Homo sapiens: one gene and its partners. The protein of the gene in region 1 interacts with the protein of each later gene in a pairwise test. Each region holds a gene or a part of one and is shown in the gene's direction. Other genes may lie near its edges. The genes, in order: ZNF648, MTUS2, CCDC57 and HSF2BP.

The links.
Region 2: the proteins of ZNF648 (region 1) and MTUS2 interact in binary tests that used the Homo sapiens proteins (3 or more experiments, as listed by UniProt).
Region 3: the proteins of ZNF648 (region 1) and CCDC57 interact in binary tests that used the Homo sapiens proteins (3 or more experiments, as listed by UniProt).
Region 4: the proteins of ZNF648 (region 1) and HSF2BP interact in binary tests that used the Homo sapiens proteins (3 or more experiments, as listed by UniProt).

The regions. Positions count from the first base shown.
Region 1 is NC_000001.11:182,058,710-182,066,671, reverse strand, and holds the start of ZNF648 (zinc finger protein 648), read left to right. Parts: upstream 1-4,959; 5' UTR 4,960-5,104; intron 5,105-7,962. UniProt on the Homo sapiens protein: May be involved in transcriptional regulation.
Region 2 is NC_000013.11:29,026,323-29,033,346, forward strand, and holds part of MTUS2 (microtubule-associated tumor suppressor candidate 2), read left to right. Parts: coding exon 1-581; intron 582-7,024. UniProt on the Homo sapiens protein: Binds microtubules. Together with MAPRE1 may target the microtubule depolymerase KIF2C to the plus-end of microtubules. May regulate the dynamics of microtubules at their growing distal tip.
Region 3 is NC_000017.11:82,202,819-82,209,842, reverse strand, and holds part of CCDC57 (coiled-coil domain-containing protein 57), read left to right. Parts: intron 1-703; exon of another isoform or gene 704-711; coding exon of another isoform or gene 712-771; intron 772-1,794; coding exon of another isoform or gene 1,795-1,996; exon of another isoform or gene 1,997-3,510; coding exon of another isoform or gene 3,511-3,562; intron 3,563-7,024. UniProt on the Homo sapiens protein: Pleiotropic regulator of centriole duplication, mitosis, and ciliogenesis. Critical interface between centrosome and microtubule-mediated cellular processes. Centriole duplication protein required for recruitment of CEP63, CEP152, and PLK4 to the centrosome.
Region 4 is NC_000021.9:43,530,488-43,537,511, reverse strand, and holds part of HSF2BP (heat shock factor 2-binding protein), read left to right. Parts: intron 1-7,024. UniProt on the Homo sapiens protein: Meiotic recombination factor component of recombination bridges involved in meiotic double-strand break repair.

The DNA.
Region 1 (7,962 bases):
TAAATGGACCAAGATCATCAAACAAACAGAAATGGGATTAAAGCCAGGCCTTTCTGACTCAAGGTTGTGTACTGAGTTCCTGTCCAATTCTGCTTTCTGCATGTGTATTCATACTCAGCAAAGTTTGATGCCTGCATGAAAAACAATATTTAAAGTCTCCACCATGTATTGGCCACTTAACTGCCTCTATCACTCCTCCTCAAGGATGATGAAGGGCTGGGGCAAGAAGAAGATTAGATAGTATACCTCACCAACCATTCACACTGTTTGGAAGCAGCTCAGGCAGATTGCTGTGATGACAGCTGGCAGCAGAGCATGGGGAAGAACATAGGCCAGTGTGGCTCATGTTCCACCACGTCACTCCACTCCACCCATCCAGTCCATGTCATTGATAGGCACAAATGAGCTCCTGCACCATGCCCATCAAATGCCCTTCTCTCTCCCAGATGCCTTGTGTTACTCCTTCAGTCTCTGCTTTTTCCTCTTCCCAGACAGGCGGGCAGACCCTTGTTTTCACTACTGCCAGTCAGCAGCTCAGAGGAATTGCCAGATTTTAGAGGCAGACTTGCAAATAATAACCAATACATAAAAGAACACCTACTTTGTTTCCATGCTTAAGGAACTGGGCAGAATGACACAGATTTCAGAAGTTCCTAAAAGCAGGAAAAGGATGTGGCCTTAGGGAAAGGGCCTTCCGCTCTCCATTTCTAGTGGTCCTTACAGTGAGTGTTGGAAAGATTAAATGAGACAGTAAATGTGCTTGTGCTGTCAAAAGGGAAACACACCCAGGAAACAAAAGGGATTCCTGTCCCTTGGAGTCTGAGCAATAGGTTGACCAGTGGGATAGGCAAGACCTGGGATTCAGATCTGAGGCCTGATCTGCACCCACTATGTGCCACTCATTAGGATAGTGAAGTCTCACATAGATAAAGGCACATGGCACTTCCAAACAGCGTTCTTAAGATGGCTTGGAGGATGTATCAGGGTAGGTGACTCAGGGAGATAAGGGGCTTGTGTACACCTTGTCTCTTGATGTAGCCTCCAGGCCAGTCCTGGTCCCATTCACCACTAGGTGGACTATCCCATACCAGTGAGATGGCAACACCAGTGTGTCTTGAAAACCAAGGAGGACTCACGTGGACAATTTAACGTGGAAGTCCCAAGGTGTCTGCTAATTACTCGGTTGTTACGGTTTCTAGAAATAAAGCATGATGGAAAACAGGCTGTCCAGGCTGAATGAGGAATAGGTGATGAGACTGTGCAGGCACTTAGTGGGAACCATCTCTCTGGGCAGCAAGGCTGAGGGAGAAGAATGCCTTCTGGGGGAATGACTATAGTGACCACAGATACACAGGTCACATAGCCTTGGGGAGGAGGGACTAAGACTTTCCAGGAGGAAATAAGGGTAGAGTCAAGCAAAGGCCAAGCATGCAGGCTCTGAGGGACAGTGTTTGGGAATCTAATGTGGTAGTGGTTAAGAGTGCAGACTCTGATACCTTGGCTCAAATTGCAGCTCCACTATGTAGGAACTGTGTGGCTGTGGCCCTTAAGCTGCCTATGGCTCTGTATCCTCCATCTGTAAATGCAGGTAACACTAGTAGTAGCTGCTTCGTTAGGATGTGATGAAGATTAATTGGGGCATTGTGTGTGGCATGCTAGCATAGTGTTAGCACTAGTAACTGCTCAATAAATGTACCATTGCTGTGAGGCTGGGAATGGGAGGGACATACACACACACACTCATCCCAGCTCCAACTTTCATCTCCACAGGCTCCTTCACAATCAGTGAAGAATTAGGTACTTTCTTGCCAAAGATAGCTGAAGCTCAAAGCCCGTACCATATGGACACTTGGGATATTTTGAGCAACCATGTTGGGATGCGGGCTAGTGGCAGCACCAACTGATAACGTGGCTATGGGAGCTATTTTAAGTGTTCACCTACTCTCCCCATCCCATGCTCTCCCCAAATGCCAATGGTTCTCAACATTTTTTGGATCATGGCCCCTTCAAGAAATGGATGGCTACCAAGGATCCTCTTGTCAGAACAGCACATGTCCCCATATCTGCCACATTCTGCACTTTATTTCAGAGGCTCTATGGACTTCAGAATTTGAACCCTATTCCAGATATTCAGACTCAGAGACCTAGAGGTATGTCTCTGCTGCCTGCCTCTTTCCTCTGAAACCATGCCTTAAAAACACCAAGGGGACATTGAAACCTGCTTTTCTGGATCACATTCTGAAAACTGCTGTTCAGAAGAGTTGCAGCTTCAACAGGGCCACAGGGATATAAAAGCAGCCCTGGAATGATGTCTTCCCTAAAAACAACAAAATCATCAATAATGAATAGGAAGAACCAATATTGTGAAAATGGCCATACTGCCCAAAGCAATTTATAGATTCAGTGCTATTCCCATTAAACTACCACTGACATTCTTCACAGAATTAGAAAAAACTATTTTAAAATTCATATAGAACCAAACAAGAGCTTGTAGAGCCAAGACAATCCTAAGCAAAAATAACAAAGCTAGAGGCATCATGCTACCCAACTTCAAACTATACTACAAGGCTACAGTAACCAAAACAGCATGGTATGCTACAAAAACAGGCACATAGACCAATGAAACAGAAAGAGAACTTAGAAATAAAACCACACATCTACAACCATCTGATCTTCCGAAAACCTGACAAAAACAAGCAATGGGGAAGGGATTCCCTATTTAATAAATGGTGCCAGGAGAACTGGCTAGCCATATGCACAAAATTGAAACTGGCCCCTTCCTTACACCTTACACAAAAATTAACACTAGATGAATTAAAGACTTAAACGTAAAACCAAAAACTATAAAAACCCTAGAAGAAAATCTAGGCAATAACATTCAGGACATAGGCATAGGAAAAGATTTTATGAAATTGCCAAAAGCAATTGCAACAAAAGCAAAAATTGACAAATGGGATCGAATTAAACTAATGAGCTTCTGCACAGCAAAAGAAACTATCATCAGAGTGAACAGACAACCTATAGAATGGGAGAAAATGTTTTCAATCTATCCATCTGACAAAGGTCTAATATCCAGAATCTACAAGGAACTTAAGCAAATTTACGAAACCCCCCACAAACAACCCCATTAAAAAGTGGGCAAAGAATGTGAATAGACACTTCTCAAAAGAAGACATACATGCAGCCAACAAATACATGAAAAAAGAGCTCAACATTACTGATCATTAGAGAAATGCAAATTAAAACCACAATGAGATACCATCTCATGCCAGTCAGAATGGCGATTATCAAAAAGTCAAGAAACAACAGATGCTGGCGAGGTTGCGAAGAAATAGCAACGTTTTTACGCTGTTGGTGGGAATGTAAATTAGTTCAACCATTGTGGAAGACAGTATAGCGATTCCTCAAAGATTTAGAACCAGAAATACCATTTGATCCACAATCCCATTACTGGGAATATACCCAAAGGAATATAAATAATTCTATTATAAAGATACATGCATGCATATGTTCAATGCCGCACTATTCACAATAGCAGACTTGGAATCAACCCAAATGCCCATCAATGATAGACTGGATAAAGAAAATGTGGTATATATACACCATGGAATACCATGCAGCCATAAAAAGGAACAGGATCATATCCTTTGCAGGGACAGGGATGGAGCTGGAGGCATTATCCTCAGCAAACTGGCAAAGGAACAGAAAACCAAACACCGCATGTTCTCACTTATAAATGGGAGCTGAACAGTGAGAACACATGGACACAGGGAGGGGAACAACACATATTGGGGCCAGTTGGGGGAGTGCGGGGTGGAGAGAGCATCAGGAAAAATAGCTAATGCATGCCGGGCTTAATACCTAGGTGAAGGAAGGGTTGATAGGTGCAGCAAACCAGCATGGCACATGTTTACCTATGTAACAAACCTGCATATCCTGCACATGTATCCCGGAACTTAAAATTTTTAAAAATCGTCAATAATAACAATGAAAGCAGCTAACGTTTTTGGGTACTTGCTATGTTCCAAACACCGAACTAAGCTCCTTACATGCATTATCTCATTTAATACTCCCCAAACTTCCATGATGGCAATAGTATCCTGGTCCCTGTTTTGCAGATGAGACACTAAGGCACACAGAGGTTAAATAACTTGCCCAAGATCACACAGCTAGTAAGTAGTAAGATTCAAACCCAGACCCAGACCGTGCTGTCAATCAGTATACTTTGTGACCACCTAGTGACATCACAGGAACCACACTTCCATCACCTATTTTAATGCCCTGAATGTTCATCCTAATAAATGCACATTAGACTTGAGTGGGTAAAAATTCTGAATGTACTGAGTCTTCTACCTTGGGCCAATCCTTCTCTTCAAAATGAACCTGCATGGGAATCAATGCTGAAAGTGGAAAGAGACCCCAGACAGGCCTGGCATCTGTATGCATAAGACAGAAAACCATCTCCCTGCACCCCTACTCCCAGTTAAAAGGCTGTGGGCATCTTTGAGCCAATGAATGGGCTGCTACAAAGAATTCTGGGAATCCCAACCCCTCACAGTTCTGCAACTCACAGTCCTGCAAAAGGTGGGTACTAGAATAGGGAGGTGGGCATATAGGCCAAATACTCTGTTCTGCCTTCCAGGAGGGAAAAAGCATGCTACCCAGGAAGCTCACAAGTGACATGTGGCCCATGGGCATACCAGGGCTAAAGTGAAGGATGGACTGCTCTGTGGAAGGAAGGAGTGAAAGTGAACAAGAGGCATAGGGCCACCTGCAGGAAGACTGAGAGGAGGGAAGGAGGAAGGCTGGCTTTGGCAGGGAGGGGAGGCAGGAGCAGAGGGAGCCAGAGGATCGGTTCAGGCAGTGAGAGAGGGCAGCCCCACTCTATTTCCCAGGCTGCTCTCTGGATGCAGGCAGGAAGGTTGAGTGTATTACACTGGCCCCACCTCCAGAGGCTCTCTCTGCAGCCGCTGGACTGGACACAAAGCGTGAGAGACAGAGACACCATCTCTGCTGATTTGTACCTAACTGGTTCCTGTTGCTGAGAGCCCACGTGTCACAGAAGCCAGGGCAGAGGCCCCACACTGCTGTCTGCATTTCCCAGGTAAGCAACCGTCTGTGTGTGAGCCAGGAGTGGAGAGCAAGGCCTGAAGGCGGTGAGCAGAGAAGAAAGTAGGAGGCGGCTGCCTAGGATGGACTTCAGTACAATCTGGAAAGAATGAAGGAAAGAAGAGGGGTATGGGCTGGGGTTGCAACAAGCCCTTAGGGTAGGCTTCTGCAGAGTGTTGATGGATGTATGAGGTTGGGGAGTCAAAGGCTGCATTTGGTCCACTCTTGGCTGGCAAGTGCAGAGGAAGTTCCAGCAAAGGACTGCTCTGACAGCCTCTGGGGACTAGCACATCTGGGGAGCAGAGAGGCCCGCCATACCATGGCATCAGTGTTCCTCTTTCAGACCAGGTATATTTGTGCAGACTTTGCCAGAAAATCCCTCCCTGTGCCCCTGCCTGCCTCCAGGTCTTCCTGGTGGTCGAGAGCATGCGTGTGGCAGCGACAGGAGGAAGAAAGCAGGACATATTCACTGGGGATATGGCTTCAGATGGAGGAGGGATACCTCATCTGAAAAGAGAGTCTCCTGACGGGCTCTGGAGAGGAGATTGGTTAGCTAGTGGAGGGCTGTGTGCCACCCTAAGGAGGCTCCCCTGTGGCCCAGAGGAAAAGAATGACACACAGACTGTGGAAAATGGGGTATTTGTGCTGGAGGTGGGGTGGGGAGCGGGTAAAGTCAGTGATCTGTGAACAGTGCCACAGAAACAGGCAGTATGTTGTCGTAAAGAGGGAAAGAGACCTAAGACATGTGTTTCATACAAATCCAGCATCCCTTTGCTGTCCCTGCTGGGGGACCTACAGCCCCGGATCAAGCCTGCTGGTCTGAGCAAGTTCTATGAGGTTGGCTAGTGGTATGTCCCCTCTATGAACTACACATTCACTCCCTAAGATCCACTATGCTGAAAATATGTCAGATCTGGGCTCCTGTCAAAAGGCATGCCAGCTACCCTCTGCCATGTGATGGGTGAGGGAAGCAGTGAGAGAAGAGGAGTGGTCCCTGGGCTTTAGGGCACAAAGAGACGTGAGATGCTGAATTCCAGTCACAACTGCAATGTGTCCTCCCTCCATCCATGGCTTCTGTATCCAGAGCAGAAAGTGAGGATTCCTCCATACTGCTCCCTCTTCATACACACAGGGTAACTGGGCTCATGATCAGGCAGAAACCAGGGAAGAACAGTTTAATGAGATGGGGATAGGGTTAACTGTACCAGCCAAATACAAAGATCACTCCTTTTATCCAGTCTGAGATGGCAGTGAAAGGTGGGCAGAGGTAGAGAGAAGGAGCTTTCAGAAGGTAAATACTCAGTGACTAATACTCTTGAGCACCACAGGCAGTGGCCTCTGCAACATGGGTCCTGGCTCTGATGGGCAGCCACTGGCCTCTCTCTTTGGCGGAGGGCAATCTGGGTCAATGAAAGCAGGGAGGAGCCCAGCAGTGAGGCCCTGTAGCCAAGGTTCCTTGGCCCAGAAAACACAAGGGGCTTTGATGCCTGCAGAAAGCCACGGCTTTTCACCCCAGGATGCTGCAGCTGCTCTTGGGCAGAGCCCAGCCCCAGAGCAGGCTTCAGTCTGAAGGCCACAGCTGGGAGGCAGGACCATTTGGGGCTTAATGGCCTTAAAATTAGAGAGAAACCCCACTGCTGCTGTCTATGAGCTGTGTGGCCTTGGGCAGGTAAGTAACCTCAATAAAGCTCAGTTTCCTGGTCTGTAAAATTGAAAGAATAATATAGTAATAATAGCATCTATCTTTTTTTTTTTTTTTGAGATGTAGTCTCGCTCTGTCACCCAGGCTGGAGTGCAGTGGCGCGATCTCAGCTCACTGCAAGCTCCGCCACCATGCCCAGCTAATTTTTTTGTATTTTTAGTAGAGACGGGGTTTCACCGTGTTAGCCAGAATGGTCTCAATCTCTTGACCTCATCATCCGTCTGCCTCGGCCTCCCAATAGCATCTATCTTAAAGTTTGCTGAGAGGAATAAATGAAATTATGTTTGTGAAGCACTCAGCATAGTGGCTGGCTCATAACGTGTGCCCAGAAAAATGAGAGTTTTAATACCCCCTCTGGGATTCTCAGAAGTTTCTCTCCAGACTAAAGCAGATTTAGCCCTCTGGTCAACAGTTGTCCCCCTGGAGAGGCCCTCAGTACCCTGCCTCTCTAGTAACTCCTTTAAAATCTGTCACTCATCCAATCCTTGTTAACCAATCCTCCAGCAGGCTTTCTCCATGTCTTCAAGCTAAAATAAAATAAGTTTGAAAATAAAACCCAAATGGCTCTCATGTCTCATGCATTATGTTTGAAATCCTACATCTGGCTTCTTGAGTCAGGAGATGTGTACCCCAGTGGACATCTGTGGTATGCCAGGGGATCAATATGGCACACTTGGGGGAAGATTAAACATTTAAACCCAGGTAACTTTAATACTATTTTCTATAAAACAAATGCGACTGGCAGGGCACAGTGGCTCATGCCTGTAATCCCAGCACTTCGGGAGGCCGAGGCAGGTGGATCACAAGGTCAGGAGTTCAAGACCAGCCTGGCCAAGATGGTGAAACCCTGTATCTACTAAAAATACAAAAATTAGCCGGGCATGGTGGTGGGCACCTGTAATCCCAGCTACTCAAGAGGCTGAGGCAGAGAATCACTTGAACCGGGAGGCAGAGGTTGCAGTGAGCCAAGATCGCGCCACTGCACTCCAGCCTGGGTGACAGAGCGAGACTCCGACTCAATTAAAAACAAAAACAAAAATGAGACATAAAATGTAAACTCTCCTGAATGTTTATGATGAAGCAAAATTTCAAAGACAGGTCAAGCTCTCAGTGGGCATCCTCTGCCCCCGGGTGCTTATGGGTAGCCTTCC
Region 2 (7,024 bases), on another chromosome or scaffold:
TGAACATGACCTACCAGCCTACAACACCCAGTAGCAGTTTTCAGGATGTTAGCGTGTTCGGTATGGATGCGGGGTCCCCCTTGGTAGTTCCACCCCCTACTGATAGTGCACGCTTGTTGAACACGTCCCCCAAAGTGCCTGACAAGAACACTTGCCCCAGTGGGATCCCCAAGCCTGTCTTCACACATTCCAAGGACACACCTTCCTCGCAGGAGGGAATGGAGAACTATCAGGTTGAAAAAACAGAGGAGAGGACAGAAACTAAGCCCATCATTATGCCCAAGCCCAAGCATGTGAGGCCCAAGATCATCACCTACATCAGGAGGAATCCCCAGGCCCTGGGCCAGGTGGACGCCTCGCTGGTTCCAGTGGGGCTTCCATATGCCCCGCCCACATGTACCATGCCTCTTCCCCACGAAGAGAAGGCAGCAGGTGGTGACCTGAAGCCATCTGCCAACCTCTATGAGAAATTCAAGCCAGACCTGCAGAAGCCAAGGGTCTTCAGTTCCGGATTGATGGTGTCTGGAATCAAGCCCCCGGGACATCCTTTCAGTCAAATGAGTGAAAAGTTTTTGCAGGAGGTAAGAGAATGTCATTATGATATGGTCTATAAGTTGACTGTCCCAATATCTGTGACATATTTTCAATGAGTTATGAAAGTAAAATGTCCTCTTTAAGTGAATTACAGATTTTCATGGATACACTTGTGAAGAAATGGAGTTTTTGACTAGAGGAGATTGTCTAGAGAAATGACCATTTTTAACTAGAAGAGTCTGATTATCTTAATAAGATGTACCCAATATCTAAGGAGACCCATTTAAATTTCACTTGCTATAATTCATATGAAATTAGATGAGTATGCCTTAAATAGGCTTCCATGTTTAAATAAGTGAATATAATATAATATAAGCCAGGTTAAAGGAAGAAAGAATGCAAAATTACTGTGTTCTTCAAATAGATCAGACTCATTCCTCAATGGGGAGTATTTTCTACCTGGGAGTATCTCTTATTCGCATGCGTGAAGAACAGCAAATGAGCAGAAAACGGTGTGTTAGGCATGGACTCTTTCTTTAAAATAAAAGTAATAATTACAACTAACATATAATTGAGGGCCAGCTCTACACTGGGCCCATATAATACAGCGTTTGATCTTTGTTAATCTTCACTAATCCTTGCAGTAATTCCCTGAGGGTTGGTATTGCAGTTTTTTGTTTGTTTATGTTTTTTTTGGCTTTTTCTTTGTTTTTGAGATGAAGTCTCGCTCTGTCGCCCAGGCTTGAGTGCAGTGGCGCGATCTCGGCTCACTGGAAACTCCACTTTCTGGGTTCACGCCATCCTCCTGCCTCAGCTTCCCTAGTACCTGGGACTACAGGCGCCCGCCACCGCGCCTGGCTACTTTTTTGTATTTTTAGTAGAGATGGGGTTTCACCGTGGTCTTGATCTCCTGACCTCGTGATCCGCCTACCTCGGCCTCCCAAAGTGCTGGGATTACAGGCGTGAGCCACCGCGCCCAGCCGGTATTGCAGTTTTTATCACCGTATAGATACAGAGACAGACAGAGAGCTTTAAGTCACCCACCACAAAGGAAGGAGAGCTCTGAGAGTCTCACTCAGGCCTGTGCAGTTTCAGACTGCACTGTGCTGTCCTTTTTAGCTATGGTGAGTCATCCTTCGAGACCTCAGAACTAAGATTTGTCTCCTGAAGGAGTCTCTTCATGACAGCTGAGTGATCAGTTAAAAGTAAGGCAGGAGCCAAGGACAGCGGCTCACACCTGTAATCCCAGCATTTGGGAAGCCGAGATGGGCAGATCACAAGGTCAGGAGATCGAGACCATCCTGGCCAACATGGTGAAACCCCGTCTCTACTAAAAATACAAAAACTAGCTGGGTGTGGTGGCATGTGCCTGTAGTCCCAGGAACTGGGGAGGCTGAGGCAGGAGAATTGCTCGAACCCAGGATGTGGAGGTTGCAGTGAGCTGAGACCACGCCACTGCACTTCAGCCTGGCAACAGAGCGCGACTCAGTCTCAAAAACAAGGGCAGGATGAGATCATCCTGTCTCTAACACCTTCCAGGGCTGCCCAGGTTGCTTGGAACACAAGCTGGAGCCTGTAGGATGGCTCTGCCTTTAGGATGGGATGTGCTCACTGGGGGTCCGTCAGCTACCTGCCCTCCTCTCCTTCCACTCTCCCTTTCTCACTCTGCTGCTTCAGGACCTTTGCACCTCCCTCTGCTTGGAATGTTCTCCCAGTTATCCAGATGGCTCTCTCCCTCACTCCCTTTAGGTCTGTGTTCCAATGTTATCTCCTTGGGAAGGCCACCCATCTTCTCTCTGAATCCCTTTTCTCTGATTTATTTCTTCCTAGCACCTACCTCCACCTGCCATAAATACTTTTTTAGTTTTCCTGAATTGACTATAATGTAAACTCCATGAGGGAAGGGATTGTTTTCAATATTTTGTTCCCCGTGTTCCCAGAATTTAGAATGGTGCTTCTTATAAGTATGTGCTCAAAAAATGTTGAGTGATAACTGAATCATGAACTCCATATGTGTTGGAACTAAACAAAAGTGTACCAAGGGTTTCTAGAGATAGGATGATTGAGTCCAAATTTGGACTCTAGCTTGGTTAGATATATTGGCATATTTAAAGAATGCATCAATCACAACAGAAGTTGTCATATCTAGCACAAAGACAAAGTTGAATCCATTCTCGGCAGCAGACATTGACTTAGGCAATCACTGACGAGGTGCCCCAACAAGCCGACCAGCTGTGCTGCCTTGCCGCAGGTCCTTAGCAACCAAATCACACAGCTTGCTCCCTGTGTTCTGACTCTGGGCCTGCCAACAGGCCTCTGATTATAACGGACTTCCTACCTCACATCTCTAGAGAGAGGATTCTGGCTGGAGAATTCAGGGGTCCAGTCAGCTTGGCAGGGGTTTGTCTTGCTGTGCGGGGCTGCATGGCATCTTGTTTATAAGTGGCTTCTTACTCTGTGCCCTGCAATGAGAACGTGTTCTGGCTAGAGGACACTTGAGTCTGGCTTTAGGCAGTGGTCTCCAATTAAAAGTGAACAAATTGCCCTTCTGGATTTTTACGTCAGTCTCTGAGTTTAGTTATAGTGAGTCATTTTCAAATTTCTAAACATTCATCCACCTGGGCCTCTGAGGCTCAGGGTCAGGCTCTGAAGCTTTGCTCTTCTATAAGGCAGGGAATCACTGCAGAGGTTCCATGAAGAGACCTGTCAGTCCATTTGTGTTGCTATGAAAGAATACCTGAGGCTGGGTAAATTATAAGGAAAAGAGGTTTATTTGGCTCATGGTTCTGCAGGCTGGAGAGGAAGCATGGCACCAGCATCTGCCTATGGTGAGGCCTCAGGCTGCTTCCACTCAAGGGGGAAGAAGAAGGGGAACCACGTGTGCATTGATCACGTGGTGAGAGATGAGCAAGAGGGGAGTGGAGGAGGTGCCAGGCCTCTCTTTAAGGACCAGCTCTCATGGGAACTAATAGAGCAAGAACTTGCTCATTACCAAAAGGAGGGCACCAAGCCATTCATGAGGCATCTGCCCCCATGGCCCACACACCTCCCACTAGACCCCACCTCCAACATTGGAGATCACATTTCAACATAAGAGTTGGCACAGACAAGCCAACCATATCCAAACCATAGCCAGAGCCTAGATTTTTCTCTATAAAAACAAACTCATGAGGGAAATTGATTTGGATATGTAGGCCCAAACCCCACATTGTCTGTAATTCTTTCTTTGTGCCCTTCTATATTTTCGTGTATATTTCTTTTCTGTGTTGTTCTGCTTCCTCCAAGAATAGTTTATATATTACATGCATAGTTTTCCCCAAACTATTTTCTCTACTTCATTATCTAGGCACCACGTCAAGACTCAAGGAAATGGGATTGTATGGACATTGTGTGGCTTTGGCGGTTCTGAGGGGTTCAGAGAGACCCCACTGGTGTGGAGAGAGCATCATGGCCTCGCACCTCGAGCATCCCAAAGTCTTCTTCAAAGAATTTATTTGTTTTTGGGCCTCGACTTTACAAGTTCGTTTGAAATGTCAGTTTCCCTCCCTGTATCTGGGGACCATTTTCTGCCATCATCAGAACGAGACCCAGGCCTCTTCTCAGGTTGCGCTGGGCTCATTTCTGTGGTAACCTTCTTTACTCAAAAGTGGGGAACAGGCTGGTCCTTGGCCACCTGCTACAGCTATGACATGATGTAACCCAGCGAGTCCCCCTCTTGTGTTTGAGCTCAGTGCAGGGAGAAAAAACAGCCGACTTCTTCTGCCAGTGTGCCCCAAGCTCATCATGGGGTGGCTGCAGTCTGGTCTCTAGGAAAAGAACACATTTTTGATAATGTGTTGCAATGGAAGTATTTTTCAGTTATAGAAGCCAGATTTTTTTTTAAATAAAATGAGAACCTCTTAAAAATAAAAACTCAAACCAGCTTCAGACTCTTCCATCCTTATCGACAGATCCCTGCTGGTTACATAGCATGGGTAGAAGTGGAAAAATCAAGAGTAAGCACTCTTCTGAGAGAGGAACTCTTTTCCCAATTGGCAGGAACAGCACAGGCATTTAAAACTTCCAGAAGTGGCTTCCAAGATCATCTGGGATCTAGTCATGTCCAGGTATTAAATATGTTTACCTAAACAGGTGCCCTCTGCCACTGGCTCTCCTGAGGTCTCAGGGACACTCCCTCCCTCCAACAACTTGGGAGCCCTTTTTATTTTTGGTAAAGGGAGGTGGGAAGAAAGGGGCTTGGCTGAGAGGATGGAGTGAGGCGATGTGCGTGCAGTGTACAGAGGTGTGATCCAGGGCTGCTCTCCTTCCTCACTGTCTGCTGCCACTCATCTCTGGGGGGCACTGCATCGATTGGGGTTTGCCAGACAAATAGAACTAATAGGTGTGTGTGTGTGTGTGTGTGTGTGTGTGTGTGGTGTGTGTTCACAGGTCTATATTCATCTATACTTATGTCTCTCAATATATATTATCTATATATGTTTCAATATATATATCTCATATGTAGAGACAGATATAGATGTATATATAGAGAGGGTACATCACATAATCTCTATATATATATATAGAGAGAGATTGATTGACTGATTGATTTTAAGAAATTGGCTCATGATTGTAGAGGCTGGCAAGTCAAAAATCTGCAGGGCAGGACAGCAGCCTGGAGACTTAGGGTAGAGTTGGTGCTGCAGCTTGGGTCTGAAGGTGATCTACTAGCAGAATCCCCTTTTCTTTAGGAGGAGTCAGTCTGTTTTTATTAAACCCTGCAACTGATTAGATGAGACTCACCTACATGCTGAAGGGTCTGCTGCTTTATTCAAGGTCTGCTGATTTAAATGTTAATCTAATATAAGAAATACTTTCATGGCAGCATCTAGAATGCTTGACCAAATATCTGGGTATTGCAACCCCACCAAGTTGACACATAAAATTAACCATCCCAGACACCCTTCCCCCACCACTATCCCAGTGGCTTGTTAACAAAGCCTTCACCTGTACCCTCTGTCTCCACGGCACACTATCCCATTGAGGACAGTGCAGGGCAAATAGGAAGAGGGACAGCCTGGTAAGAATGTATTTGTTCATATGCCTTGACTTAACGAGTTTGTTTGAAATCATAGGGTTCTTTTGTTTGCTTTCAAAGTGAGTTCTCTAAAAACCCTCCATTGGGATGGAGGGAGGGGAACAGCAACGTTTGGGGTTTCCAAACGTTGTTTTATGACTGTGCAGCATCACCTGCTGTATTCTGTCAGTAAAGATGAAGGAAAAGAGTATGAAGCTTTCTGTAGATTCCCTTGTTTAATTAAAAATGCACAGACTAGACATCAAAGGCGCAGTTTTCCCCCTTTTAAAGAATTTGCGATCTCACCAGAAACAAATTACCCAACAAAATGACAGGCATTGAAGTTACTGAAATCCTTAAGATCATTGTTGAGAGAGAATGTGGTGAATTTTAATCCCTAAAAACAACTCAGTTTCAAGGCACTGAGTAACTACTAAGATCAGCATATTGCAATCCTAAAACCTGACAGATGTAGTTTGGAAATGATATTAATTTCTTCATAAGAGCACCTGCTCAAAGCAATGTGCAATGGGACCCAAAATTTAGAAACTAAAATTAAAAAAGGGTATATATGAGAAAAACCAGAGATTGATAGTGAGAGTAAGTAGAGAATGGTAAAAAATTTATCAGAGTGCAGATGTAGAATGTTCTTTCATAGGAATATAATTTGCTATAGCCAAGGACTATCTACTATAACAGTCATGCATATTTTACAGTGTGATTATGATAAAACTTTAAAGGCCTAATCTTTTGTTTCTACAATGTCAATTTGAAGGAGGACTTTGTATCTATTTCAACATTAAATGAGTATCAATTTAAGGGTTTATCTCTTCAACAGCTTGGATCAAAGCTTTTATAGCCCCCATTAAAGAATACTGTTAAATGCTTATGATTCCTGAGATATAAGTTTGACACATAAAATGTGCTGTGATTTAGAACAGAGTTAATTAACAGATGTATCTTTTCATGCATGGCCCTTAGCACTATTTTTTATTGTAACTTAAAGGAATAGTTTATTTAGTTCTCTCTCTTTTTTTCCTGTTTAATATTAATAAAACACTGATAATATGAACAGACTTAGTGAGTACAGAATTGCATATATAAAAGGTACTGCCCACAGGTTGTATTCTAGGCCAAACTGCTAGCTACAGGAGAAAGTGACAGTAACGTTATGTTATTATTAAACTTAGGAAAAAATGGAAACATGATTCTTCAATAAATATTTATTGACTTTAGCTATGTGCTAGACATTGTTTTTGGTGCTATGAAGTCAGCGGTTGATGAGATTGTGCCCTAGAACTTCCATTCTGGTGAAACTTGCTCAAACCTTCCTGGGAGCATCGCCTCACTCGAGCAGACGACCAGAGGAGATAACTCAGGCTCAGGTTTTTAACTAGGTAAACACATAGTACAGATCTGAAAATACATTTTCCA
Region 3 (7,024 bases), on another chromosome or scaffold:
CTATACACATGCAAATCTATTTCAGTATATCTGTGTCTCTGTATATATTAAAAACTGGCTGGGTACAGTGGCTCACGCCTGTAGTCCCACCACTTTGGGAAGCTGAGGGGGGAAAATCGCTTGAGGTGAGGAGTTGGAAACCAGCCTGGCCAACAAAGTGAGACACCCATCTCTATAAAAAATTACAAAATAAATTAGCCAGCCATGGTGGCGTGTGTCTGAGTCCCAGCTACTCTGGAGGCTGAGGTAGGAGGACCATCTGAGCTCAGGAGTTTGAGGCTGCAGTGAGCTATAATCATGCCACTGCACTGCAGCTCGGGTGACAGAGTGAGATCCCATCTCAACAAACAACAAACACCAAAAAAACCTGTGAGTTTATTACAAGTTACGCACTTGTAATCAAGTTAGGTTCACCTGTTTCTACTTCATTTTGAGTCCTTACTGATTTTAAGTTTTTTTGTTTTTTGTTGTGCTTTGTTTTTGGCACATGAAACATGTATACGTGGTTCTAAAAGTCCGCAAAGTCTAAACTCAACTACAAGACTTCGACTTCAACTTCTATTTCTCACTTACTCACTTTTTTTTGGCAAATGCACGTTCAAAGAAAACAGCCCTTCATGTTCCTTCGTGGTAGTGGTGCCCCTCTTCTCCAGCAAGTGCCACTGACAGAATTCAGACCTACTGCCCATCTCTCTTATTTCAGTTTTAGAAATGGCTGTGGCTACTCTTCGGCAGTCAGTGGAGGAAGTGAAAAAAAACACGGGGTCACAGGTACATAATTTTTGTCCCCTGGACCTATTTAAAGAGTAGATGAGAGGCTGGGTGCAGTGGTTCACACCTATAAGTACGTGGGAAGATCGCTTGAGCTGTAGCTTTTAGATGGGCATTCGAGGCTGCAGTGAGCTGTGATTGTGCCACTGCACTCCATCCTGGGTGACAGACTGAGACTCTGTTTCAAAACAAAAGAGTAGATTACTGAATTTGGCCTCCCAGAGGGCTTAGCAGCACTCTCTGGAATCCAAGAGGGGCCACAAGAGCTAAATTCAGTACATTTAAAGGTGAGAGGATCATTTGAGGCCAGGAGTTCAAGACCAGGCTGGACAATATAGTGGAACCCCATCTCTACAAGAAATTTAAAAAAAAAATTAACTGGGCATGGTGGTGCCTGCCTGTAGTCCCAGCTACTCAGGATGCTGAGATTGAGTCCTCTGTCCTGAGTACAAAGTGAATGAGCCACCCCAGACCTGCCTTCCAGTCCCAGGAAGTGTCTTATAAGTTAAGGGTATTAGGCCAGGCACGGTGGCTCACGCCTGTAATCCCAGCACTTCGGGAGGCCGAGGCGGGTGAATCACGAGGTCAGGAGTTCAAGACCAGCCTGGCCAAGATGGTGAAACCCCATCTCTACTAAAAGTACAAAAATTAGCCGGGCATGGTGGCGGGCGCCTGTAATCCCAGCTACTTGGGAGGCTGAGGCAGGAAAATAGCTTGAACCCAGGAGGTAGAGGTTGCAGTGAGCCAAGATCGCGCCACTGCATTCCAGCCTGGGCAAGAAAACAAGACTGTCTAAAATAATAATAATAAGTTAAGGGTATTAAATATATTTATACATGGAGGTCATAAAAATATATATATTTGGGCTGGGCGCAGTGGCTCACACCTGCGCCCGGCCCTTTGGGAGGCCGAGGCAGGTGGATCACCTGAGTTTGGGAGTTCCAGACCAGCCTGACCAACATGGAGAAACCCCTTCTCTGTGTATTTTTAGTAGATTTTATTTTATGTGTATTTTATTCACAGGTATTTCTGGAAAACTCAAACTGTTTTTCCTCTACTCTGATACCACAAGAATCATCAGCACAGAGGAAGACTTCTGTGATCAAATGTGGTGGGAGAGGGAGGTTTTCACCAGCACATGAGCAGTCAGTTCTGCCGCAGACTCGGCGGGTGTCCTTCGGTTCAGTTCCAACACCGCCTGCCTGGAGAGAGGTCAGACCACAGGGTGAGGGCTCAGTCCCCAAGACATAAACACCCAAGACATAAACACCCAACAGGTCCACCCCGCCTGCTGCCCAGGCAGAGCCGATTCACCAAGACGGGAATTAGGATAGAGAAAGAGTAAGTCACACAGAGCCGGCTGTGCGGGAGAACGGAGTTCTATTATGACTCAAATCAGTCTCCCCAAGCATTCGGGGATCAGAGTTTTTAAGGATAACTTAGTGTGTAGGGGGCCAGTGAGTTGGAGATGAAAGCGTAGGGAGTCGAAGGTGTCCTTTTGCGCCGAGTCAGTTCCTGGGTGGGGGCCACAAGATCGGATGAGCCAGTTTATCAATCCGGGGGTGCCAGCTGATCCATGGAGTGCAGGGTCTGCAAAATATCTCAAGCACTGATTGATCTTAGGTTTTACAATAGTGATGTTACCCCAGGAACAATTTGGGGAAGGTCAGAATCTTGTAGCCTGTAGCTGCATGACTCCTAAACCATAATTTCTTTTTTGTTTTTTTTTTTTTATTTTTGAGACAGGGTCTCACTCTGTCACCTAGGCTGGAGTGCAGTGGTGCAATCACAGCTCACTGCAGCCTCAACGTCGTAAGCTCAAGCGATCCTCCCACCTCAGCCTGCCTGGTAGCTGAGACTACAAGCGACGCCCCAGTTAATTTTTGTATTTTTGGTAGAGGCAGCGTTTTGCCGTGTGGCCCTGGCTGGTCTCGAACTCCTGGGCTCAAGTGATCCAGCCTCAGCCTCCCAAAGTGCTGGGACAACCGGGGCCAGTCACTGCACCTGGCCCTAAACCATAATTTCTAATCTTTTGGCTAATTTGTTAGTCCTACAAAGGCAGTCTAGTCCCCAGGCAAAAAGGGGGTTTGTTTCGGGAAAGGGCTGTTACTGTCTTTGTTTCAAACTATAAACTAAGTTCCTCCTAAACTTAGTTCGGCCTACACCCAGGAATGAACAAGGAGAGCTTGGAGGTTAGAAGCACGATGGAATTGGTTAGGTCAGATCTCTTTCACTGTCTGAGTTATAATTTTGCAATGGTGGTTCAAAGACTGCCCGCTTCTGACACCAGTCGCGAGTCCTGGCCTCCGGAACTTCTGACTGACCACTGGCTTCAAGTTGGGGTTCCCACAGCCCCCTCTTTGGGTTCGATTGATTTGCTGGGGTGACTCACAGAACCCAGGGAAACACATACGTGTAACAGTTTATTATAAAGGGTATTACAGAGGATACAGATGAGGAGATGCGTAAGGGGAGATATGGGGGAAGAGGCTTCCTGGAGGACCCCCCCACACCCCACCCACCACTCCCCAGGAACCTCTCCACACCCTGTCCTCTTGGGTGTTTAGGGAGGCTTCCTGAAGTCAGCATTCCTTCCCCCAGGGTAGAGGGTGGGAGCTCTGGGGAGGATCTTATGACCTACAATGGAAAGTCAGGTGAGAGTGGAGACCTGGAAGGATTCTGTTTCCTGAGGCCTGACACGCCCAACATTGCAACAAAAGACTGTGACGTGTGAGAGTTATGAGCCAGGAACTGTGCAAGAAAACCATGATGTGTCATTGTACCACAACAGGTAAACCTACAACATCACCGTTAGCTCAGCTCAGTATTTTTAAAATGAGAAAATCAAAGTGATGGGATGCCCACCCATGCTGTTCCAGCCCCTGCTGGGAGCTGGCTGGTTCAGGGAGCCCCACTGGTTCTCCTGAAAGAGGGTGAACGCACAGCGAGGCCTTCCCTCCCCGGCGGCTTCTCCTGCCGCTCCCCAACCCGGAAGCTTCATGGTCCTTCTTGAAACCAGGTGCTTGCTGGGGACGCCTGCTGGCCGACAGGCAGATTGCGTCCAGATGCTGAGTCCGTGCTTTTGAAAGCCAATTAATCTCAGCCTTGGGGCTTTGGGGATCATCCCGAGATGGGATTTGTACAGAAACAGAGCAGGCCGTTCTATGATGAGGTCAGAAGGAAAGGCGAGCCGAGCCCGGCTGACTTACAGGCCCTTGGTGTGTGGGGCTTCTTATGGGTCCTGAGTGTGATGGATAAAGCGCTGGAGATGCTGGGCTCTCACCGGGTGCTGCACCGAGTCACTTGCTGTATGGATTTTTCAGGCTGCTCTTCTGTGCAGAGCACAGAGGCCTGGGAGCACCCATCTCACATAGAGGGGGTGGTACGTGCCATCTGCCTGTCCTGGCTGCCTGAAGCTTTTGAAAACAGGGTGACCCGCTGAGTCCTGAGACCTGGTGGGAAGGAACCTCACCCAGTGGGGAGATGGGGGCATGGGGACCTGGAGTAGCACGTGCACAGGAACTGGCAGATAAAGGCTGCTCTGGGCCTGCAGGGAGCAGCTGGAGCCACGCAGGCTGGGCCGTGTCCTCGGTCTGTCTTCATACGCTGTGCCAAGGAGATCGGACTTTATTTTGAAAATGGTCAGGAGTCGCGGGCACATTTGAGGCCAGATAAGATTGCATGATCAGATTCTCAGAACGGCAACCCCCATGGGTGGCTGCGACCAATGAGTTAAGGAGGCAAGCCCAGTGGCAGGGCAGCTGGTACAGGACGGGGGCCACAGCAGTCCCTCAGAGAAGAGGCCCGTAGACCTCGCAGACCTCAGGCTCTGCAGAGAACCGTTGTCATGACTCACGGGCACTGTGTGAAGGGTTCTGAGTCATCAGAGATCACAGTGGTGTTCCATCATTTAATGTGTATTTGCTGATAGTCCAATTCTTTCCCTGTGTGTGCACAGGTGTGTGCACAGGTGTGTGCATGTCCTCTGTGTACAAAATGTTTCAGTCGCCAAGACTGTGCCAGACAGTGGGACTCACTACACCCGACACTGGGGTGATGGCGTTGTGCCAACGTGAGATGGAAGTTAGGAAAGCTTCCCTGCAGTGATGTTCAGGTTGAGGTCCCACTGGCAGGAGGAGCCTGCCCTGCGGTTAGGAGGAACCTTGCAGACAGAGCGGCACCTGCCACACATCCCAGGCTCTGAGGGCACGTGGCAGCGACAGGCAGGAGCCTGGGGTCCAGATGTCCTCAGTGGAATGGGAAGCCTGGTTAAGCCTTTTTTTTTTCTTGAGATGGAGTCTCTCTTTGTTGCCCAGGCCGGACTGCAGTGGTGCGATCTCAGCTCACTGCAAGCTTCGCCTCCGGGGTTCACGCCATTCTCCTGCCTCAGCCTCCCAAGTAGCTGGGACTACAGGCGCCCACCACCACGCCCAGCTAATTTTTTGTATTTTTAGTAGAGACGGGGTTTCACCGTGTTAGCCAGGATGGTCTCAATCTCCTGACCTTATGATCCGCCCGCCTCGGCCTCCCAAAGTCCTGGGATTACAGGCATGAGCCACTGCGCCCGGCCCTGGTAAAGCATTTTTGAAAAGATTCCTTTGGCAGCCAAAAAAGTGGGAGTGCACAGCAGAGGCCAGTTGAGGTCTCTTGTGGTAAGACACTGTGGTGGCCGAGGTGTGGGCACAAGGTGGGAGACAGCAAGAGGTCAAGGATCATTACACGGGGTGGACGGTGGGGCCGTTGTAGGAGCTGAGGGAGACGAGGAACAGGAGCGTGGGAGAGTGCTGAGATGGTCGGTAGGGACCCTGTTAGCTCCGGCAATGGGTGGGCACGCAGCAGCTTGGAGGAGCCAGGCTGAGGTGGTCCAGGTGGCGTGATGGTCCTAGGGTGCTGGGCGCGGGGGTTGCATCGCAGGAAGCATGTGGGATGGAGGAGACCGTCTTTGCTCCAGAGCCTCGTCAGAGAAGCGCCGTCTCAGGACCCCCAGGGAGCCCTCGTGCCCCCAGCGGGTGTGCCCTGCTGACCAGCCCTTTCTGGAGGGGCCCACGGGTCTTGCAGCCCCTTACCCACCTCCTCCTTGTGCTTCGTCACAGCCGGTGCTCAGCCTGGCTGTGCCCTTGTACCCGCTCCCTCTGGGAGTTGGGACTTTGTACAACCATTGCTGTGCCCCGAGATGCAGAGGTGCCCGGAGATACAGAGGTACCCTAAGACAGGCTGGGGCTTTTTCCTGCTCTGGCAGCAGCACCCCGGCCATGTCCCACCAGGCCGGAAGTTTGTGCTTGTCCCCCAACTGGGTGTGGCCCTTTTAGGCCATGCAGTTCCCCTGTGTGGACACCAGAGAAGAGTTGTGGGGGATTTCTGTGTCCAAATCGAGCTCATACTTGGACCTCTAAAGGGTTGGGGGCAGCTAGGACCAGCCAGAAGAAACTTTATCTTTTAATAGACCACTCACTGCAGCGTGGAACTCCTGAGTTTGAATGACCCACCCACCTCAGCCTCAGAAAATGTTGGGATTGCAGGCGAGAGCTACTGTGCCCAGCTTATTGGTTTTTGTGATTTTTGTTTTTAAATTTTATTTTTTGTAGCACTTTATTTTTATGGTTTTACCAAAATATCAGTCCATGATGAACAAATAAAAGAACAAAAGAATGTACTCTCGGATGGTATATTAGACCATTCTCACATTGCTGGAAAGAAATACCTGACGCTGGGTAATTTATAAAGAAAGATTAATTGGCTCACGGTTCTCCTGGCTGTACAGGAAGCACAGTGTTGGCACCCGCTTCTGGGGAGGCCTCAGGAAACTTTTACTCATGGCGGAAGGTGAAAGAGGAGCAGGCACGAAGCAAGAGGGGAGTGTGAGTGGTGGAGAGATGCCACATCTCACTAGAACTCATTGTCACCACACACTTTGAAATGACCAAATCTCCCCAGAACTCACTGTCACAAAGACGGCACCAAGCCACGAGGGGTCCGCCCACATGATCCAAACACCTCCCACCAGGCCCCAGCTCCCCCGTTGGGGATTACAATTCCACAAAGGTTTGGGCAGGGATAAATATCGAAACCATATCAGGTGGTGAATCTTCCAGGAGCAGGGTGTTGGGTGGGAAGGGGCATTGGTTCTGAGGGACTGACCTGCTGTCAGTCCTCACGTAGCCACTTAGCAGCCTTAGTTTTCTCAGCTGTGAAATGGACAGAGTGCTGCGTTGAAGCTATTTTATAGAACCTAGCTCTTATAGCTGGACAAACC
Region 4 (7,024 bases), on another chromosome or scaffold:
ACATGGTCCAGAATCCATATGTGCTTTGGAGGTGGCCAGGAAGCCCATAGGAGGAGGGAATGCTCAGTGTGTGCCCTGAGAGCTTTGCCACTGTCAGAAAGCACCTGACAGGAACAAGTTTGATTGTATTTGACACATGCCGGCACTACCACAGAAAGTTTTAGCAACAGATAAGAGGGGACATCTGTACTCTCAACTTCTTTTTTCATACTTCCTATTGAAGTTTTCATCTCTACTCTCAGGCATTTAATTTCTAAGACTGCTGTTTATTTTTAATTGTCTTAAAAAATAGCATCCCATTCTTGTTTAACAGATGATATAGCTTCTTTTACCTCCTTGAGGAAGATATTAATAATAGTTTTTTAAAACTTTTCTTCTCACTGCACAATCTCTTTTCTTTGTCCTCCTTTTGTTCCTGTTTAAAATGATAGCCATTTATCTTTTTCTCAGGTGTCTGGTGATGTGTGGTTGTCTGGTCATGTTTAACAGTGGGATTTATAATGCCGATTGGAAGCTGTGAGCATATGGGTGGAGCTTCTGAACTTTTCTGCAGTGTGAGCTGGTGCATCAATTAATTGGGAACCCATAGGTCAGTATCTTCGACTGTGTTGTCTTGGGTTGTTCAGATTGTCTGGAGAAGACTCACCCACCCTTATTTCTGGAGGGATGAAGGCCTATAAACTCCGGAAACAAAGTAGAGATAGAGGGAATGTCTTAGAGCTTGTAGGTATGTGTTTATCTAATCCACATGTTTTCCAGACAGAACCTCCATCCTCAATTGTGCCTGATGTTTCACCTCCAGAGATTCTTTAGAAAATAAATGTCCAGGCCAGGTGGGGTGGTTCACACCTCTAATCCCAGCACTTTGGGAGGCTGAGGTGGGCGGATCACCTGAGGTCAGGAGTTCGAAACCAGACTGGCCAACATGATGAAACCCCGTCTCTACTAAAAATATAAAAATTAGCTGGGTGTGGTGGCAGGTGCCTGTGATCCCAGCTACTCAGGATGCTGAGGCAGGACAATCACTTGAACTGGGAGGCGGAGGTTGCGGTGAGCTGAGATTACGTCACTACACTCCAGCCTGGGTGACAGAGTGAGACTCTGTCTCACAAAAAAAAAGAAAAGAAAAGAAATGTCCAGTCTCTACTAGGGAAGGGCATTTTTCCAGAGGCAGGGAATAGGGGAGAGGGTCCAGGGATCTAATTTCTTATTATTATTTTTATTTTTTTTTAGTTTTGAGATGCAGTCTTAACTCTGTCGCCCAGGTTGGAGTGCAATGGCGTGATTTCAGCTCACTGCAACCTCTGCCTCTGGGGTTCAAGTGATTCTCCTGCCTCAGCCTCCCAGGTAGCTGGGATTACAGGTGCCTGCCATGACACCTGGCTAATTTTTGTATTTTTAGTAGAGACAGGGTTTCACCATGTTTTTCAGGCTGGTCTCGAACTCCTGACCTTAGGTGATCCACCTACCTTGGCCTCACAAAGTGCTGGGATTACAGGCGTGAGCCACCAAGCCTGGCCTTCTTCTTATTTTTAATATAAAGCCAGATTTGTTGAGTTATAATTTACATAGAACAAAATTCACTTGTTAGTAGACAATTGTATGAGTTGTGACATAAAACTATCTCAGCATATAACTCATATGCTGAGTTATGTGGTAAGTATGTGTTTAAATGTATAGGAAATTGCCAAATTGTTGTCTCAGGTGGTTGTACCATTTTATTTATTTTATTTTATTTTATTTTATTTTATTTTATTATTTTATTTTATTTTATTTTATTTTATTTTATTTTATTTTATTTTATTATTTTATTTTATTTTATTTTATTTTATTTATTTTATTTATTTTTGAGACAGAGTCTCGCTCTATTGCCCAGGCTGGAGTGCAGTGGCACGATCTCGGCTCACTGCAACCTCCACCTCGTGGGTTCAAGTGATTCTCCTGCCTCAGCCTCCCAAGTAGCTAGGATTACAGGCGTGCACCACCACACCCAGCTAATTTTTGTATTTTTAGTAGAGATGGGGTTTCACCATGGAGGCCAGGCTGGTCTCAAGTTCCTGACCTCAGGTGATCTGCCTGCCTCAGCCTCCCAAAGTGTTGGGATTACAGGCGTAAGCCACTGCGCCTGGCCTGGCAGTACCATTTTAAATTTTCACCACTAATCTATGAACATTCCAGTTGTTCCTCATTCTTGTCAACACTTGGTATTTTCAGATTTTTATTTTTTAATTTTAGCCATTCTAATAGGTATGGATTTAATTTCCATTTTTCTAATAGCCATGATGCTGAGCATCTTTTTGTGTGCTTGCCATTTGTGTATCTCCTTTGGTGAAGTGTCTTTTCAAACACTTTCCCTATTTTTATTGGGCTGTTGTGTTACTGAGTTTTCAGAGATGTATGTGTATTCTGGATTTAGGTCCTTTATCAGATACGTGTTTTGCAAATGTTTTGTCCTCATCTAGTGGCTTGTCTTTTCATTGTGACTGTCTTTTGAAGAGCAGATTTTTAAAATTTTGGTGTGGCTAATAAATTATTTAGTTGTATGGATTATGCTTTTGGTTTTGTGTCTAGGAAATTGTTACCTAATTCAAGGTCACAAAGATTTTTCTCCTGTTTTCTTCCAGAAGTTTTAAAATTTGGGGTTTTACATTTAGGTATGTTATTAATTTTTGTATAATTTTTGTATGTTAGGCAAGGTATAGATTGAAGTTCTTTGTTTTTGCATATGGATGTTCAATTTTTCCAGCACCATTTGTTGTAAAGGTTATTCTTTCTTGATTGAATTGAATGTATACCTTTGTTGAGAGTTCACAAAGCTGTGGTCTGTTTTTGGATCCTCTAATTTTATTTCACTTATCTCTTTGTCTGTCGCTCTGTCACTTGACCAGTACCACACTCTTTATGGCCATAAATGTTGAAATCTAGTACTGCAATTCCCCAACATTTCTCTTTCTCTAAATTGTTTTGTCTGGTCTAGTTCCTTTGTTTTTCCAAATAAATTTGAGAATTACTTGTTGATTTCTGCTAAAATTTCAACTTGGATTTTGGTTGGCATTGCATTGATTATATAGATGAATTTGAGGAGATTTGACATTTTAACAATATTGAGTCTTCTAGTCCATAAATATGGCATATTCTCTCCATCTATATGTCTGTGGATCCTTATATCTGTGTTTTGTTGTTTTCAGCATAGAAATCTTGCACATAGTTTCATGAGATTTATACTTAAGTGTTTCATGTTTTGGTGCTATTATATAATATATGGTAATTTTTAAAAAACATTAGATTTTTAATTTTTTGTTATAAGTATGTGGATACAATTGACCTTTGTATGTTGAATTTGTATTCTGTGACTTTGCTAAACTCAATTAGTTCTAATAACTTTTTTTCTAGTTTCTTTGGGATTTTCTGTATAGACAATCATATCATCTGCAAATAGAGACAGTTTCATTTCTGCCTTTCTAATCAATAAACCTTTTATTTCTTTTTCTTGCCTTACTGCACAGGCTAGGATCTCTAGTATGATTTTGAATAGGGGTGATAGGATATTCTTGCCTTGTACGTCATCTTAGGAAAGAAGCATTCAGTCTTCTATCATTAAGTATGATGTTAGCTGTGTGTTTTTTGTAGATGCCCCTAATCTGGTTCAGGATGTTCCTTTTTATTCCTGTTTTGTTGAGGGTTTATTATTATTATTACTGTTATGAACAGATGTTGAATTTTGTCAAAAGGCTTTTCTGCATTTATTGAAGAGATAATTTTTTTTTTCTTCTTTAGTCTGTTGTTACGGTAGGTGATGTTGACTGATTTGCAAATAATGAGCCAGCCTTCCATTCCTAGAATAAGTGTCTATTGGCTGTGAAGTATTATCCTTTTTATATATTGCTGAATGCAATTTGCTATTTTTTTGTTTAGGATTTTCGTGTCTTTGTTTATGAGGGATATTGGTCTGTTCTTTTATTTTAACATCTTTATCTAGTTTTGGTGTCAGTGTAATTCTGGCCTCATAAAAAAAAGTTGACTTATTTCCTCCTTTTCTGTTTTCTGGAAGACTTGTTTAAAATTTCTATTATTTCTGTTCTAATTTTTTGATAGAATTTGACAATGAAGCTCTCTGAAATGTTATACATTGCATGACTGTTTACCTTTAAATAATAATCCGCTGCTTCAGGTATAGTGTAAGTACCTTAAAACAGTGTTTTCCCATCTATTGATCATATTTATTTCAGATTCTTTTTCTGAAATTCCTGTATTATTATTCCAGGTTATCTGTGTGTCTGCTTCTGTTGATTGTCACTTGACAATGAGCCTTTTGTTTCCTTTGCCTTCTTTTGTTTGTTTGTTTGTTTGTTTGTTTGTTTGTTTTTGAGACAGAGTCTCACTTTGTTGCCCAGGCTGGAGTGCAGTGGCGCAATCTCAGCTCACTGCAACCTCTGCTTCCTGGGTTCAAGGGATTCTCCTGCCTCAGCCTCCTGAGTACCTGGGATTACAGGCGTGCGCCACCACACCCAGCTAATTGTTATATTTTTAGTAGAGATGGGGTTTCACTATGTTGGCCAGGCTGTTCTCAAACTCCTGACCTCGTGATCCGCCCGCCTTGGCCTCCCAAAGTGCTGGGATTACAGGTGTGAGCCACTGCGCCTGGCCTCCATTGCCTCTTCATTGTAATTTTTGATTTCAGTGTTGGACATTGTGTGGAGGGCAGTAGGCAAGGTCAAAAAACTTTTTCTGTAATGGGCCAAATAAATATTTTGAGTTTTGAGAGCCACGTGTAGTCCCTGTTGCATGTTATTCTTCTGGTTTTTACTTTTAAAAAATTACCCTTAAAAAATGTAAAACCTGGCAGGCTGCAATGGTTCATGCCTCTAATTCTGGCCCTTTGGGAGACTGAGGTGGAAGGATTGCTTGAGCCCAGGGGTTTGATACCAGCCTGGGCAGTGTGGTGAGACACCGTCTCTACAAAAAAATGTGAAAAATTAACTGGGCGTGGCCACATGTTCTGTGGTCCCTCTTTCTTGGGAGGCCGAGGTGGGAGGATGGCTTGAGCCCAGGAGATTGAGACTGCAGTGAGCCATGATTGTACCAGAGTACTCCAGCCTGGGAGACAGAGCAAGACCCTGTCTCCAAAAGGAGGAGGAGGAGGGGGGGGGGAGGAGGAGGTGGTGGAGGAGGAGAGGAGGGGGGGGGAGGAGGAGGAGGAGGAGGAGGAAAGAAGAAGAAGAAGAAGAAAAAAAAAGTAAAACCATTCTTAGCTTGCAGGCTGTACAGAAACGGGTCATGGGCTACCTTTGGCCTCTGGGCCATGCGTACCCTCTCTGTAGAGGGGAATGAGGTGGGTAGATAGTGTTATATTCAGGAATGGCCACTCCTCTTTTTCCGCTGGGTTTTCATTGTTGGGGAGTTAAGGTGGGTCTGGGTTTTGTTGTTGTGTATGTACCTTCCATCCCACTGGCTTCAAATTCCTCTAACCTTTCCTTGAGCTTAGGATGAGGGCTGAGTTGCCAAAGCGTCTTCACCCATGGCTTTTGGCCTTGCCTCTGTGTCTGCCTTAGCTGCCCCTTATCTTTGGCAGGTCTCTACTAGAGAAAGTTCCCCTCCCTTCCCCCAAAGTAGGAGGACTCTAACAGGCTGGCTTAAGATGGCTCCTGGACCCTCCCTGAGGGCTAGAGCAGATTGCCTTTTATCTTCCCTGGCCACAGCAGTCTTCTGATTCTGTAGGTGAGAAGCTTCTTGTTAGGGCTTAGTGCTGTGGCAGCTCCCACTGAGAGACTGTTCAGTCTGCTCTTTCAGTCTACATCTTAAAAGGTTTTTTTTTAATTTTTTTATTTGTTAAGTAAATGTGCTAAGAAAGAGGTGCTGATTTTGAGCCTGGTTCCAGTTGCAGTACCCAGTCAAGGAGTGAATTTACGGCATCGTAAAGGCTGCCAGTAGAGAGGAATGGTAAGGAAAGTTGGCTCCACTCTGGTGATGGATTGAAGCTTCCAGTGGGTTTGTCTAGCTATTTTTTAGTGGTTGCTACAATGTATGCAAGGCTACCAGATTCTATAAGTCCTGGGGCCATTCCCATGGAAAATAAACAACGTGAATTTTATATACCCAGTGACATTGTGTAAACTCAGTGGCCCTGATAAGTGCTGTATCTGTATGTGGTCCCTGAGGGATTTGCTGCAATTGGAGTGAAAAAGAAGTAATACTTTTTAAAACAATCTTATAAGTGGACAGAATGCTACTGTCGACAAAGAGTCAAACTCTGCAAAATATTTGAAGAGATTTGTTCTGAGCCAAATATGAGTGAGGTCCTGAGAACATGTGCCCAAGGTAGTTGGGTGCGGCTTGGCTTTATACATTTTAGAGAGGTGTGAGACATCAATCAAAAACATTTAAGAAATACATTGGTTTGGTCCAGAAAAGTGGGACAAAGCTGGGGGGCGTGGGGCTTCCAGGCTATAGGTGAATTTAAACATTTTCTGATTGATAAAGACCTGGGATTGATAGAAAGGGAATGTTCAGGTTAAGGTAAAGATTGTGGACATCCAAGTTCTTTTGAAGTCTTATGGTGGCTGCCTTAGAGACAATAGATGACAGATGTTTCCTATTCAGATCTTAGTTAATCTCTTTAGGATTAGGAGGGTCTCGAAGAAAAAGATCTAGCTATGTTAGTAGAGATTCTTTACAAATGCAGATTTTCCCCCACAAAGAACAGCTTTGCAGGGCCATTTCAAAATATGGCAAAGAAACATATTTTGGGGTAAAGTATTTTTATTTTCTTTCTTGTCTCATAATGTTATGCCAGAGTCAGGTTGGAAAGTCATGATATATAGGGTTAAATAAAACCCATCTGATGAGAATTTGTGATTTGTAGGACATGACTCCCCAGACCCCTTAGATAGGAATTTGGGCAAGATAAAAAAAATCAGAGTTTAGTCCTCACTAGCAAACAGAGAAAGCCCTCATCTTTCTAGTTTAACACTTTAAAATTGTATGACTGTAATATTTGAAGATGATGGTTATTAGACTATTGAGT